Linked DNA regions of Homo sapiens: region 2 is linked to region 1. The links come from fine-mapping of genetic effects on gene expression. Tissue or cell type: testis. Region 1 holds a variant in brackets; the other region holds the start of a gene. All regions are shown on one strand. Distances are from middle to middle.

The links. PIP is the estimated chance that this variant, and not a neighbour inherited with it, causes the effect.
Region 2: NOSTRIN starts here. The variant in region 1 is fine-mapped to the expression of NOSTRIN in testis (GTEx, PIP above 0.99). The same link has a PIP of 0.9 or more in minor salivary gland.

The regions. Positions count from the first base shown.
Region 1 is chr2:168,854,069-168,862,178 of GRCh38, reverse strand. It overlaps NOSTRIN (nitric oxide synthase trafficking), which reads right to left. Exons shown (of 16, transcript NM_001039724.4): 11 at 6,719-6,827; 12 at 5,401-5,489; 13 at 2,542-2,667; 14 at 1,270-1,384; 15 at 130-219. It also overlaps a transcript of SPC25 not described here. Among named protein-coding and RNA genes, the nearest start is that of SPC25, 32 kb to the left of the region's middle. The variant A/G (reference allele first, on the strand shown) is at 4,339.
Region 2 is chr2:168,798,885-168,806,994 of GRCh38, reverse strand. NOSTRIN (nitric oxide synthase trafficking) reads right to left here and starts at 4,358. Exons shown (of 16, transcript NM_001039724.4): 1 at 4,322-4,358. The coding sequence starts at 4,348. RefSeq lists an enhancer at 4,415-4,914.

The sequences.
Region 1 (8,110 bases):
TCTTTCAAGAAGGGTGAACTGATTTGACATGGTAGTAACTCTTAAGGCTGCCACACTAAGACAGGGTTTTATTCATGCTAAGAATCTCAATATGGGAAGGCAATTAAAATATTTGAGAATGATTCTTACCCTTTTCCAAATTCAACTCATCATCTTGCCTGGCTTGAAAAGAATACAAGGCCTTGCAAAGTCTGCTGCTGAGCTGGGCTGCACCAGGGGCTGAAATAGATAAAGCTGTAATTAGTATGCTGTGTTAGCAGGCAAATGAATATGAGCTGAAGCTCTTTGGTTATTTAACAGTGTGATGCAGAGTTTCAATATATTAAATTTTTCTCAAAAGGAAAGTTTGTAATTTTATATAATGTTCATTCCTTGATTCAATAACCACTTATGATGCACTTTCTATATGTATGGACTGCATATGTTATATAACCAAAAACTATATTATAATACATGAAATAGCAAGTCTAGAGAAAAACATCATTGTATAATAATAGTAATTGCATGCATGTTTTGGAAAACATTCACCAGTTTTGCCATTCAGGTATAAATACGGGATATTTGGGGCATGTGCATGTTATCATCATCCCTAGCTGTGTATGGAACTGTTTCTCAAACAATGCAACAGTGACTCCTTAATATATTGTGTGAACCATAATGTCCTGGTTTTACTGAAGTTCTTTTTTTTTTTTTTAAACCAATTTCTAATTTAAAAAACTAGATAGTCAAGATTATGGTAATTATACTTGAACATGCAGGTACAGTGACACGTGTGTGTGTGCTGAAAGATGAAGAGCAGTGTGGTGTGTGGGTGCATGAATGACTGAAGTCAGATGGCTGCTAACAGGAGTTTGTAGGCCATGAGTCCAAGCCCTGGCAAACCACCTGGATCACCATGTGTCTCGCAGAGAGGACAGGCTTCTTATGGGAGTTTGGAGGAGGCTATGGAGACAGAGCGACAAAGCTCCTCACGATGGTTTAGGTGTGATTATGTTTATGGCAAATAACAGGCCATTTGAATAAGGTGGATGCCAGTCATCTGATATCTGAGGCAACTTCTCATAGGATACTTTCCCAACCCTCTACTCTTCTTAACTTTTTCCCATTTTTACATAAAGCTACAGAGTCTAACAAATTAATCGGTCCCAATGGAAATATAAATTTCCTTAAACAGATACAGGTCAAAGTGGCTCTGAAACTAAAATTTAAATGTAGCAATGTGCCCTGCCAGTAGGACCCAGGCCAAAATGATTGTGGGCATGGGATTACCTGGAGTTGAAGAACCTGGATTGCTCTGCCCACCAGAAGATGCCTTGCTCACAATATTCTCTAATCTCTTCATTAAAAAAGGCCGAGATATTTTCACATAGCTATGAGTATGCTCCTGTTCAAATGACATAAAAAGTCATATTTTGTAACACGATTATCATAAACATTCATGAAAATTAACTCTTCTGTAGCTGTTTTCCTCAAGTTGTTTTTTCTGTTTGTTTTTTCTTTTTTTTTTTTAGACAGAGTCTTGCCCTGTCACCCAGGCTGGAGTGCAGTGGCATGATCTTGGCCCACTACAACCTCCACCTCCCGGGTTCAAGTGATTCTCCTGCCTCAGCCTCCCCCGTAGCTGGGATTACAGGTGCCCACCACCATGCCTGGCTAATTTTTGTATTCTTAGTAGAGACGGGGTTTCACCGTGTCAGCCAGGCTGCTCTCGAACTCCTGACCTCAGGTGATCCGCCTGCCTTGGCCTCCCAAAGTTCTGGGATTACAGGCATGAGCCACTGCGCCTGGACTGGAAGTTTTTAAACTGAGGGGTATAAATAATTCAAAGATTTCTAAGCCCTACTGTGTTTCAGTTTTGAGTTGAAGCCTTAATATTTTCACAATTACACAATTACTATACTTTATAGCCTGTGTTTCCAATTCTAACCTATGTGTCTAGGTCAAATAGTAATATTCATAGCATTACTTTTACAAATACAACTTTAGTTGGCTTAATGCAAGTGAAATGATCACAACCCTGTAAATGATTGAGATTGTTTTCGAGCTCTTGAGCCTTAGAAAACTGTCCCTTCACAAGATGATTACAGTTCCCCCTTCTGATCAGTAATAAAAATAGCTACAAGCATTTCAGAGCTGTACTGATGCATTATCTGCATTAGGCACCATCTTAAACAGATGAGACTAATACATACCACAAAATCTTATAATTTAGGTCTGAACGAATATTAAAATTTCAATTTAATAGAAATTTTACTGTAAAAGCACATCCAAAGGATGAAATTCAGGTATGATGAGAAAGAAGAAATCAAAAGTGTTTTTTAGCTTCTCATAGAAGTTTGGTGTACACAGAATGTATTCGGTTTTGTCTAGCTCTTGTTATTGTGCTCAAAAGAAAAATAAAAACATTTATCTTCTTAACTAACTGCATGAATATTAATATCACATAGAATTCCTAACACCTTTTTTGCCCTGATGCTACTTTAAGCCACTCCACCCAGCAGGCCCAATCAAGAAATTACAACCAGTCTCCTTAAATGTTACCTTTTCCCTCCACCTGAAGATGGAATTACTACAAGGATGGCTGGGTTGAGGTCTTTGCTCAAGTTCTGCTAACATTGATGACAGTTTGTAGGAGTTCGCTTCCAAAAGGTCTAGTTTCAAATTGTTCTGTGGATACATCATTTGGCCATGTGAGCAAATTTCTAGTAAATGAGGCACAACTGGATAGGAATATCAGAATAACTTTCAAAATAACAAAGGTTAGAAAAGTACGCATTTAACTCATACAGATATTCACAGAAAATGCCGAAGGAAAAAAAAATGGAGGAATAAACTCTTTAAGCAGTTTAGAGGGAGGTTTTAGTTGTTGAGTGTGTCTCATTCTGTACTCTGGGGGTGAACAGGAAACCTTGGTAATATATTAGTATTTTATGGCAATGAAGAGGTTTTACTCAATTTTCTGCTGAGGGACAAGAAAGGGGATAAGTGTTGATTGTAGAAGGTAGATTTTTGGTGGTCTGCGAAGAAGGTGAGCCATCAGTGCTAAATATTGTGAACAGAATTGAATTAACATCAATAGACGCAAATGAAATTGAATGTGAGGTTTGTTTGTTCTTTGATAAGGTGAGGTCTTATATTACCCACAAAGTTTACAGGAATACTTCTGGAAACTGGGAACAATATTTTAGGGCATTTGAGTATAAACATAATAAGTCAAGCTAAAGATACACTCCTAGTCTCTGTCTGTTCTTGATATGACCTTGAACTAGAAACTTTATAATTACCTTGTCAGGCTGGGTCCAGCCAGGGTGAATTAAATAACAGAATCTAAGCATTGGAAGGGTCTTGCTTATCCAGCCCCCTCCTCACCATTATCCCTCTCTCCCCCACACCTCCAGCATGGGAATTCCCAACCCTAATATCCCTGCCAGGGTGTCACAGCCATGGACAGAAGACATCCAATTGATGGAGAAAGTCTCTAATCGTTGGAGGAATCCACTGCATTGTGGGGCAGGCTTACCTAAGACAAAACTAAAAGCTCCCCCATGCTTTCTACCATTAGACCTTCACTTGATAGTCTCATAGAGCACATCTAGTTCTTCTTCTATGTGGCCCTCTTTCTGGTCTCTAAAGACAGTATTTAATCTAAGTGCCTCCAGTTTTCTCAACAATTTTTCTTATGACACTGCTTGTGAACATTCTTGATTCAAACATGGCACTTCAAGGACCAAGATATAATGAAATAAGGAAGAATGTAAATAAAAGTTTCCTCATCCTAGAAACCTTCCGTGGGTGACACAAAATCTACCAGTATCACTAGTTTCTGTCTACCCAGATGCAGAGCATGCGTAATGAAATCATGTGGATATTTGGCATTCCTCACTTAAAGGTTCATAGTTGCTCCTTCACCAGATCATAAACATTGGAAGTTCCAAGGTCAGATGCTCTCCCTCCTTGTGTCCTCCACTGTGTGCTTCAGGTGAGAGGACCCAGATGATCCTAATACATGTATGCTGGTAATGACAATGACAAAATTCTGTGCAAGGACAGCCAAAGGAATAGATGTATAACCCAATGGCATCAGTAGTTAACTAAACAGCTTGTGCGGTCACAGAAAATGTCCTACAGTCTGTTTTATAATTTCATAAAAACTGTAGCCACGGGTCATTGCAGGTATGTTAGACCTCTGTTACCCAGTGCACACAATGCAGGCTATTTTCTTTTACAAGAAGTGTTAGGCTTGTTTCTGCAACAGCACCTTACTCAAGAAAGCCTATCTAAAAACTAGGTCAGCGATACCTCACTGCATCTGTCTTCTTTCACCAAAGAACTATTGAA[A/G]TTGCCAATCTGGGTACAATTATCAAGTACCTACCTTCACAAGAAAGTTAGGCTATAAGCAAGAAAAACAAAACGCCCAGATTCCTGTACCTTCAAAACATTGCTAAAAAATTTATCTCCTTAAATGATTCTCAGATTAACCCCAGTCCACTCATGATCTCTAATCACAGCAGAAACCCATATGTTGCACACTGGTGCTATATATCTGTTCATTTTTATTCCTGTGTAAAATTCATCAGCTTTTTGTTAACTATCCCTTTCCCTTCCTCTGAAGTGGCCAAAATGTCCATCAATCCCCACGAATGTCTATGGGGCTAGAGTTCACACACTCAGCACAAAGGCCAGGAGGCCCACCTCCCTGCCTCTTCTACCATCTCCCCACCCCAATTCCCACCCTTAAAGAACTTTGCCCTCAAAGTTGCTCCTGGTTTCCCCAGATTTTGCCTCACACACCAGACTGCCCTATTCCCTCTGCAACCACGTCTTTCCTTTCCCCTGTTATTCTCCGATAACCCTGAGATCAGCAGAGGGATGAATGGAAAATACCACCTTAATAAAAATTACTAGTTTTTGAGCTCCTCCTGTGAGCATTGTGCTGGTATTTACTAAATAATATTTCACCCTCACAAAAGCCCCATGAGGTAAAGTACCAATATCCCCATTTTGCGGATGAGAAAACTAAAGTTGACCCAGGTCCCTGTAAACAGCAGAGCTAAATCTAAATACAGGCCTTTCTGAATGCAGATCCTTTGTTTCCTGTCGCTTTTCTTAACTGGGTTAAAGTGCACATGGTTTCTAGGCCCTTAAAGAACGACTCTGTTTGGAGAATACTATTTTAGACACAATTCTTTTCCTAGGACACCAAAGCAAACATTTCTAGGTAGTTGTATTTTTCCAGATCCCTCAAATGACTTATGAAGCTGACCCTATAAGCTCCCCCACTAGATTGTTCTATGTCATGAGAAAGGAAAGGCAAACAAGGCCAAGTGGACCAGAAACAAGTATTCTAAAAATAACCCTTTTCATCACTACATCTAGGAAATGCACTCGGCAAACATTTACCTCATCCATTAACGCTGCTGTGTCTTTCTGGCTCTTTGCATCAGAGAAGGAGGAGGTGCTGGAGTACGTTTTAAGCATTCGTTCCAGGCCTGAAAATGAAATCATGTTCTCAGTCACCTTTCACACTGTCTCAGTGGGACACAGCCAGGAGTCGGTCGCTCTCAAAGGGAGCCTAGAAGTGATACCAGTGAGATTTTTTTTTTTAAGACGGAGTCTTGCTCTGTCACCCAGGCTGGAGTGCAGTGGCGCGATCTCGGCTCACTGCAACCTCTGCCTCCCAAGTTCAAACAATTCTCCTCCCTCAGCCTCTTGAGTAGCTGGGATTACAGGTGTATGCCACCATGTCCGGCTAATTTTCGTATTTTTAGTAGAGACACAGTTTCATCATGTTGGCCAAACTGGTCTCCAGCGCCTGACCTTGTGATCCACCCGCCTTGGCTTCCCAAAGTGTTAGGATTATAGGCGTGAGCCACAGCACCCAGCCACCAGTAGGGTTTCTTAAATGGCTGAGGGAGTCTCTGCAGGTAGTTCTTAATAAATTTGACTGAATGATAAATGAACTGTTTACCTTTCTCTTCACTTAATGAAATTTGAGAAGTGCTGGTGCTTAAAGCATCTTGATTGTTATTTTTCCAGATGAGATTTTGAAATTCTTTCAGTCGACCCATTCTAGCAATTGCTAACAGTTACCCAACGTTGGCTTCTTCCTCGTTATGGTATTCACATCACTAAATGTTTTCTATCTTGAATTTGCTCTCTAGTATTCCATTGCAATGAGTTATCGTGGTCCATATAAAACAAGTTACTAGGTAGACATCAGAGTCACAAATGTGGAGTCGTTTTTGTCATCCTTGTTGCTTTAGAGCTGCTTCACAGTCTGACATGCCTAACTTCTACGTACAGAATTTAATTTGAAAGGTTTTTACATTGTTTCAAAAGTCAAAAGAAACAAACCAAAAAACTCATCCAAAACTCTCATGCACAGTTGGTTGACCATGTTTTAAACCAAACACATTATCTCTCATTCTAGCCAATTTCAGAAACACAGTTAAAATGCTACATTTCTGAAAATAGTAGTATAATACTTATATAGGTTTCATAAATAGACCAAAATGTGATTTTCCTTTTTTTTTTTTTTTTGGCTTTCTTTTTTCTTCTACTTTTTTTTTTTTTGTTCACACAACTGAAGTTTGATATATGGTTCTTTAAATGAGAAGACCCCTGCCAAATAGCAAAAGCAGATCAATCCTAACTCTGAATGAAACCTCTGAGCATCATATGGTCCCTTTTCTGGCCATTCAAAGAGATGGTTACACACCTTCCTTGTCTTTTGAGGCTTTTTCAATGTCTCTCTGCAGTCTCAATAATTTTGGTTTTAGTAAAGACTTTCGTCTCTCTTTATCCATTGCACTGTTAGGATCTTCTTCCTTTAGGAAAAAAGAAGGATGTCTAACAAGGGGGAAGAAGTAAGAGTTGCTATTCCCTGTCCATTCTGATACTTCCACTGGCTGCATTTAATTTTAACTTTATAAAATAAAACAAAATTTTTAAGCAGGATAATCTTTAGTTTTACACACATTGTTCTACCTGTTCGAGACCTGATGAATAAGAAAATATTGTCTTGTTCACAACTTTTAAGTCACATGGCCGAGCACTTTTTAATAGAGCAGATTGTTCTTTGAGGATGGACCCTTGCTATAGCTATTTCATTTTCTTGATAAATCTATTTGTTGTATACTTACTGCTTCCTTATTTACTTTTGTTCAAGTTAGAGTCCTTTAATGGCCCAAATGTAATATCATGTATGTGTTTCAGGCTATGACTGCCTCAGGAGTGGAAGACATTTTGACTGAGTTCTGTGTTGGCTCAGTACTGGGAAGATGTGAGCTAAAACACATATGCTCTTTCCAGAATGGGTTTATGATTTAGTTAGGCCTTGAAGCATAACATTAAAGAAACTAGCAATACAAGACCACATGCATTCACGAATGCTACAGACACCACGAGTGCAGGCAGCTGACAGCTTCGAGGAGGCAAGAAGACGTAACTGTCTAGTCAAGGAAAGATGGCAAAGGGCACTCCAGGCAGGAAAAATGGCGGGAGCAAAGGGCTGGGGGAGGACTGTGGGAAATGTGTCAGGAACAATAAAGACACCTGTTGCATGAGCAAAAAAATAGGGGAAGAAAAAATTGTTCAGGGAGTTGAGGCTAGATTTTAGGGCTGATGTAGGAATTTTATCACATAGGCTATGAGGAATCATTCATGATATCTGAGCTTTCACATGCATTATTTCAAGGATTGAATAAAAAAGAATAGGATGGTAGAGTTGGAGTGAGGAGGTTGCTAAACATGAGTGGCAGAGGGACAGAAACCCATGGAGAAAGACGGGAAACTAATGACTCAAGGTGGGAGGGGAGGATGCAGGCTTCGCTGATAAGGAAGGAGAAAAATTAGGATCCCGGCTGAGAGATTACCTTTAGATGGAGCTTCACAAACAAGAAGTGTGAGGATTTAGAGCAAAGGGAATAGCCTCTATAAAAACATATACAGATAAAAATATTTTATTTACATATTTTTCATTGCACATTACAAAAGTGTCTTTATATTCTGGGCCAGGTGTGGTGGTTCCCACCTGTAATCCCAGCACTTTGGGAGGCCAAGGTGGGTGGATCACTTGAGGTCAGGAGTTCGAGACCAGCCTGGCCAACAT
Region 2 (8,110 bases), 55 kb after region 1:
CATCAGAAACAAATACATTTATAAATGGCTAATCTGTATAATCACAGTAAGTTTACTCCAAGTTATAGTAGCCTTTAAGTGTTATGTGCAATACAGCTGGCTTCTTGATGTCATTAACCAGCACAAGAAGAAGAGCTTGCTGAGAAGAAGTGCAGTCAGGTGGAAGGCAATTTTGGTGTTCTTTTCCTACCCATTGAGCTTTTAAATATCCTAACCCCCTATCAAATATTCATTCCAGGGAATAATCTACTATTGATTCTACATCTCCATATGAATTCATATTAATATGCTGCTTCTCCTGGGGACCATTAATTATTGGGGAAAAAAACACGATGAGGTTTTTCTCCCCTGATAAAGGGATTTCAGTCTGGTAGTGGAATACCTGGGATCTTCCTGAGCCCCTAAAAAAATAATAACCCCTTCTCAAATAGACAACTGGTCTATTTGACAGACATTTCCCATTCGGCCATTAGGAAAATGTTTCTTCCCAGCACTTGTAAGCAAATTCTGTTGATAAATATAGCCATTACAAAAAACATTTAGTAATCCAGCCAGTCAGCACATGAAATGTTTAGACAGGCGACTTGTAAAGATTATAAAGTGCCTATATCAAGCTTGGCCCACCTGCTCTTTCTGCTTGAATGATTAAGAGGGTTAAATTTAGTTCTAGAAAAAGTTATAGAAAAATTTATTTTTATTGATGCTAGTACAGAAGGATTTTTTTTGATTAGTGATGATCCTCACAGTGTTAAAGAAACCATGATATTCCCCTTAAATTTAACACAATGAACTTTGCTGACTGCCTTTACTACGCCAGGCACTGTGCTACTGATATCATGTGAGTTCTGATTCACTGGGGGTGATGTTTCAAAGCACTGCCCCTCTCTGAAGGGATTCCATGTACTTGTTCACCATCTGCGTAGTATTTGGAATCCCTGTGGCAGACTGTCATAGATTACGGGATATGGAACATTAAAGAGCATAGTCTACTCCATCCTTTCCTCCTTTTACTTTACACACAAGGAAACAGAGGTCCAAGAAATGTGGAATGGCATGTTACACATCTCACTGATGCACACTGGGGAGGCTGTGGGCCACGTGACACCCATGCCATATGCAGCCTCCTTCTGTATTTTTGCAGCGAGTCAGATTCTCCTAGGAGCTACGGACCATGGCACCGGCACCATCTGAGTTAGTGACAGTCATTGTCTGATATCCAGGCTAAGCCACCAAGATGGGAAGCTCAGGTTGGCATCTGAGCCAGGTTACCAACCTGAGGAGCAGCCTGGTGCCATTTCAATGGCCGATGACATGCGGGGAGGGGCTGACTGTGTGGCGCCCAGAAGACTTGCTTTGACAGACCCCTTCCTGGATACTGTATGAGTGTGTAAAAAGCAAAAATTTGGCTACAGCTTGTTACTTGTCCTTGATTTCTATGTGATTGTTTGATAGGAAGGTGCTATTAATACTTTCTTATGATTGGATTCTTTCCCTTAGAGATAATTGGATCTTACTTCGCCTTTCTTGCACATGGATTTGAAGATGAGTTCCCTAGACATATTTTTAGGTTTAAGAGCTAAACCTAAACCTTCATAGGCAATGAAACATCAAGGCCCAGAGCCAATTCTTTTCCTTGTCAAAAACAGAACTTTAAAGATATCTTACAGATATCTTTTTCAAATAAGTTCTGACACTCTCAAGATTAATCCTACACAGCATTTAGGCAATCTTATGCCACCCTGGCAACAATTTGAACTCAAACACTGACCTTGCTCTTTGAGGTTGAAAGGCCCAGCTGTCAGTCTATTTTGCCCATTAGAGCTTGATCTAAAAGAGATTTTTAAATTTTTTCGTACCATGAGCCCTTTTTGTAGTCTCATGAAACCTATTTGATTCAGAATAACATTTTTAAGTAGCGTAGGGTTAAAAAGGAAATGAATTATATATTTTTTAGAATGTATTTTTAAAATTATGATATTATGTGCTTTTTTATTAACATACTAAATTACATATCTTAAGTATTACCAACATTTTGAAGTCAGGGTGAATGTAAATATTTCTAGATATGTGCAACAACTGTAATGTTATCATAAAATTTCTGATTTTTATTGGTTACAAAGTCACAGACACTATACAGATATGACTAATAGTATTGGGGCTTGTTGCCTATATTCTGGATTGAATAAAATTCTAAATTTCAGTTAGAAATTAGTACAAATAGAGATTTTTTTTCACTGAAGTTCATGCAACCCACTGAGTTCCATACATGGGTACATTGGTGTGGGCCCGGTTAAGAACAGTAGCTAAGCTAATACTTTATGAACTGTGCTCTGTGCAACTCTAGGGACTCATGGAAGGGGACATTTTGCAGGTGGTTAAAGCTTTGGGTTCTTTTATAAAACTACCTAAATGTTTCATGAGGCACTCATTTGCAATCCATTTCCTTGTCTTATTTTGTTCCCAAACCGCAGATTCATCTTCACATAGCATTGTTCCCCAAGTACAAGCTAAGAATGTGCCAGGAAATCAACTTGAACACTTGATTAAGATGAAACAATTGCAAATAAATAAATGTTCTGTGAGTTTAGAGGGTTTGGAAACCCAGGCTGAAGGGATATCCGCCCTCCCCATGACTCCCGGATACTTTTGGTGGCAATGAGCCCATACAGATGACCTTCAAAGTTTTAGACAAGGACAGGAGTCCTTGGCCCAGCATAGCACAAGGAACTATTCAGCATGCCAGGGAGTGGAGCTTTAAGCAGACACAGAAGTGTGGTTATGGGTTGCCTTGGGGGCTGCTGAAAGAAAACATTTCTCCACGTCTGAAGACTTGACTTTGCTGTCTACAAAAAGGATGTTAGACCTTCAGTTTCTTTTTTATGGATTTATTTCTTCTTCTCTTTTTAAACTTAATTAAAGCTGCCCACCATTTCCCTGTCTTCTGTCCATTGCACCCTTCCCTGGTGTTAATTTTCTTCTTTGGTTACTATTAGTGCCAAGATTTTGCTGCCACTTACCCCATCCCTGTCCTGGCCTGCCGCCCCTATACAAAAACATTGAGGTAGGAGTGTTGAGACAGGAGAGGATTTAACAGTTTAGTCAGGGAGCAACCTCAAGGAGAGAAAAATAAATGATAAAAGACTTCTTAAAAATTATTCACAATTAACAATGGAGAGAACACTGAGATTGAAGTAATTAAAGGGGGAAGTTTCACTCTTAAAAATCTATATATAACCATATCATTGGAATTTGTTTCTACATTAAGCACAAATTATTTCTGTATTTAAAAAAAGGAAAATTAGGCAGAATTGGCTACTATGTTGTCATTATTAAAATTACTAGTCATTTATGAGTTCATCTCATTTAGCTCATCTGATTTTCTGCAATAGTAACTATAGTTCCATTTTTTCCAACCATGTGCTTTTCTTATCCATTGAATAAACAAAAAGGAAATCAATAATCCTCTGCTGATCTTTTTCTTTATGACTTTATCTCAGCGCCCATTTATCTGCCGCCCCACAGTTTGTGTTATCAATACATGAAGGATGACTGCAACCTCCTGCTTATGATGTCACCAATCTTAGCTTTTCAGCCCCATGTGTTGGGATAAAACACTGACCCTCCTTAATTACTTTATTTTCAAAGTAAACATATCCCCCCCTTTATTTTAGTTGCTTCTTATCTCCTAAATTACATCTCTGCTATTGCCGCCGGAGACCTCACAATGTCTTTGGACTTCTGACCAAACTTATATTTTTGGTAGTGCTCCAAACATTACCAAAACGAACAAACATGGAACAAACATGCTGCTAAACCAGTCTGAGAGCCACTGCAGGCCAGGCAGAGTGGGGAGTCTATCCTTCCTCCTGCAGGACTTGTGATCCTTGACTCCAAAAAATGAGGGTGAAAAGGCACAAAAACTCTCCTCCCTCACTTTATTCTCAGAGCCAAAAATTGGCTGCAGACATTCTGTGTGTTTTTGTATCCACACCACACATGATGTTGGCACCATGGGTGTATGTCTTAAGAATGTTTTCCAAACAGCCACCATCTGGATCCAAATATGAGGCTTTACTCTCTCAAAACTTTTTCCAAGAATATGAGAAGGAAAGATGACAATTACCTGCCCTGTCATTTCCTAGAAAAAGCTCTGTTTTTAAACTGAACCAAAGAAAAACCACAAACTTTTGCACCACAGCCAATATCTAAATGTGTTTGGTTTCTGAGTGTCTCAAATTTCTTAAGTTAAAATCCATTAATATACAAATCCACCCTCCACCCTCCTCACACGCAGGCACACAAACCACACTGAGCTACTCACCGGACAATCTGTCAGTGGGTCCCTCATGTTGAAATGTGTCTGGCTTTTGTCCTTTCACCTACGCTCCAGCATTCTGGACACTGTAATCAAGGTTGGGTGTGTCCTGGACTTCCGGGATTCAAAGGGCCTAGAGTACGTCAGTCCTTGTCAAACATTCCAAGGAGGAAGTCCCAGCCCTGGACTTTCATCCCGTTTGTGTCCCGAGAAAGTAAAGAACTGCTCTGGGTCAAGACGGCCAGTGTGAGATAGTGAGAATGACTTCTGTAAACCCTCAGAGGGCAGGATCCTGAGTCCTGAACAGCGTAACATTGAGAGAAGGCAGAGAAGCTGTAACATGTCTCCAACAATTCTTGCGCTTGGTCTGACAGTGCAGGAACACATATCCTCTCAGCCTGCAGTATTAATCATGCTTTTTATTTTCTGTATTGTATGATGCTTTGACCTTTGGGGACCTCATGGACTTGGAGACAGACTGCCTCTCTGAGGGTTAGCTAATTCCTAGAGAGAGCAAACAACTGGCCTGTGAGCACTCCTTTAATATGCAAACCAACAAATCCAGAGCCCAAACCTCCCCACCATCTCTGTTACCCAGTTCTCAAATACCAAGCCCATATTCCCCCACCCCCTAAATCCCACAGGGCCAGACACCAAACAACTAGGAACCTACACCTATAGAACTATAACTATAGAATGTTCAGAAACAGCTATCAGGAGCAAAGCGTACATTAACCACTTCTCTGAGCCTAACTCCACACTCGCTCCAGCCCCAACAGGATCAAGAGGCTAAGCTTTCAATGTAAAGAAAAAATTGCCTAGATCTGGCCTCATTTTTCATCACTCAAAAGGATAGACAGAACAAGAACTCAACCACAGCTTGAGTTCTATTGCATTCCCTGTACCTGTGGTCCCAGTTGCCAATCATTAGATTTCCAATGAATGGCCTATTGATGTACGACAGCCATTTGCTAGACTGTGGACAGTTCTGTTTGACTGGCAGGCAAGGGCAGGCCCCAGTTTGAAAGGAGCTCCATCAACACAGTCCAGTGGAACACTTCAGAGTTTAAAAGCATTCAGTTTTCACCTGACTGGCTGACTCAGCCTCCATTCACCTGCCCCTGGTGTGCAGGCTCCATTCAAAGTCCCTAGAAATAAGCCAGTTGCAGTGGCTCATGCATGTAATCCAAGCACTTTGGGAGGCCGAGCCTAGAGGGTCACTTGAGGCCAGGAGTTTGAGAGCAGCCTGGGCAATATAGCAGGAGATTCCTATCTCTATAATTTTTTTTTTTTAATTAGGATGTGGTGGTATGTGCCTGTAGTCCCAGCTACTCAAGAGGTTGAGGCAGAAGGATTTCTTGGGTCTAGGGGTTCAAAGCTGGGCAATAGAGTGAGACTCTACTTCTAAAAAAAAAAAAAAAAAGCTTCCAGAAACAACGTAGAAGAGTCAGGGGACAATTAAGGAAAAGAACTTGCCTTGCAACAAGAGTGGAGAGGAGGGGTCTTTTCCACACACTTAATGCCCTCCCTCTTTGCTTATCCAAAGAACTTGATCACTGGAGGTTACAACAATCTTGGGTAGCTACCACAGGGCTAGAATTAGACAAAGCAACTCTGTATAATAAAAGAAATTTAGGTAAGGCACAGTGGCACACACCTGTAATCTTAGCACTTTGGGAGGCTGAGATGGGAAGACTGCTTGAGGCCAGGAGTTCGAGACCAGCCTGGTCAACATAGCAACACCCCATCTCTTTTTTTGTTTTTTTTTTAAAAGAAATTTAGAGACAGGATATAGACTGAGGTTAATAACATGTAACTCAAATTCCCACTTGAGGGGGCTTCTCTGCCCTCAGAGATTTTAGATAAACTTGTCCGGAGCCACCATTCCAGGACTTGGGACAGCTCAATGTTTTCTCTGTGATTCCTGCCCCATTTTTCTTGCTGTTCTGTGTTTCATTTCAGTCCCAACTGAGTCCAAACTGAGGAAATTGGCCTCCCTTGCCAGTTTCCATAAGAAGTGCTGTCACACAAAGCCTACTGTGATCTTTGTATACGAATTATAGATTGGTAGGGCACTCCTATCCCCAAACTCCTCATGTGTGCCATTCCCAGTGGGCTGACTAGCTTTCCCTCAGACCTCCTGGACATCTGCTGAATTAAAATCCTTCCATCTTGCTCCTGTCTGCCACTGGGCCGTTGTAAGGGCAGCAGGGCATCCCAGCTGAATCCAGACTGAGAATTAGAACTTGGCTATTTGTTGAGCTTCTCGGAGGAATGTTTGAATGTGCAAAAAGCCTTGATTTTGGAGGTCAGAAATAGGTTGGTATCGTTTATCCTTTGTCACAATAATGCTGTGTAACAAACAGAAACCCAGTGGCTTCAAATGACAGAGACTTTATTTGGTTCACAAATCTGTAGTTTAGCTGGATGGATCTTCAGGTGTCCCCTGACCTCACTCATGTAAAAGCAGGTCATCTACACAGGGCTTGGCAGAGCCATGCATCTGGGCTTTTCTGGGCAGGGGGCTGGCTGGGAGCTAGCTGTTGGCTGAGGCCGTATTTCATCAGCTGGTAGTCTAACCAGGCTCTTCTCAGGGTATGGCAGAGGAGCCACAAGAGTGAGTGGAAGAGCTCGAGGCCTCTGGAGGTACAGCTTAATATGGACATCCCATCATTTCAGCCACATCCAGCTGATCAAAGCCAGTCATGGGCCAGCCCAGATTAAAGGGGTGAGGAGAGCTTCCACTTCATAATAGGAGGAACTTAGTGTCCCATTGCAAAGGGCATAGAGACAGAGAGGGGCAGACAATTGGAGTTAGTTTTCCATTCAATTTACTACAATGGCTGCTTAATATTTGTTCTTGAATGACTAGAGATAAAGCAGCAAGGACAAGGAGCAGGTGGCTGGTATATGTCTTTCTTTCCCTCTCCCCAATCCAGCCTGGGGTGACACGTTTTGAACCTCAGCAGACTGGCGTTAGGAAGAGAAATAAGAGGACCTAAATCATAAAAGACTCTAGACGGATAAGGGCTGTTCTCTCCTCTGACCCCACATTCCACCCTACACATACTCTGCTAAGGAGCACAGCAAAAAGCACCTCTCCTGGATATGGGTTGTGAGGAGGCAGCAGCAGGGAGAACCTGCTAAGTTGTCTTCAGCCACTGAGGCTCAGGTAGGTGAGGCATCTTGATGAGAAGGATAGAGCAGACCACAGTGAGCACATTTGTCCCCGAGCATGTGAGAATTCCTCCAGTCCCCAAAAATGGCCCAAGGGGACTTTGGGAGGAGGAGACTGAGTTCCCATGTGAGTAAGAGGAGCAAAGAATCTTGTAGTTTTGGAATTAATATTAACAACCTCATTTGTACCTACAGGTTGATGAGAATGTGAACCTAAAGGAAAGAACAACTGAGGCCAACTTAATATAAGTAGAGCATTTACTTGGGCCAAGCTTGAGGGCTGCAACCCAAGAGCATAGTTTCAAGTGGCCCTGAGTATACGCTCTGGTTAGCAGCAGGTACAAGTAGGTTTTCAAAGGAAAAGAAGAGGAAGAGGAAGCTCCTGAGTTGTTTGCCAAGAATTTCCATGAAAATAACACAAGCTGTTGATTGGCTCTACACTGTTCTGTGAATCACAAATTCCAGGACCATAAAGATAGCAGATGAGGCAGCTAGTCAGGAACAAGATGCCTTTACATGATTGCTTCTAGGTGTGGGTTCAAGGAGGCAGAGCAAGACTTGAGCCCCATACTCCCCTCTCTGGGCCTGATAAATTTTGCATACCTCATATAGCTCAGA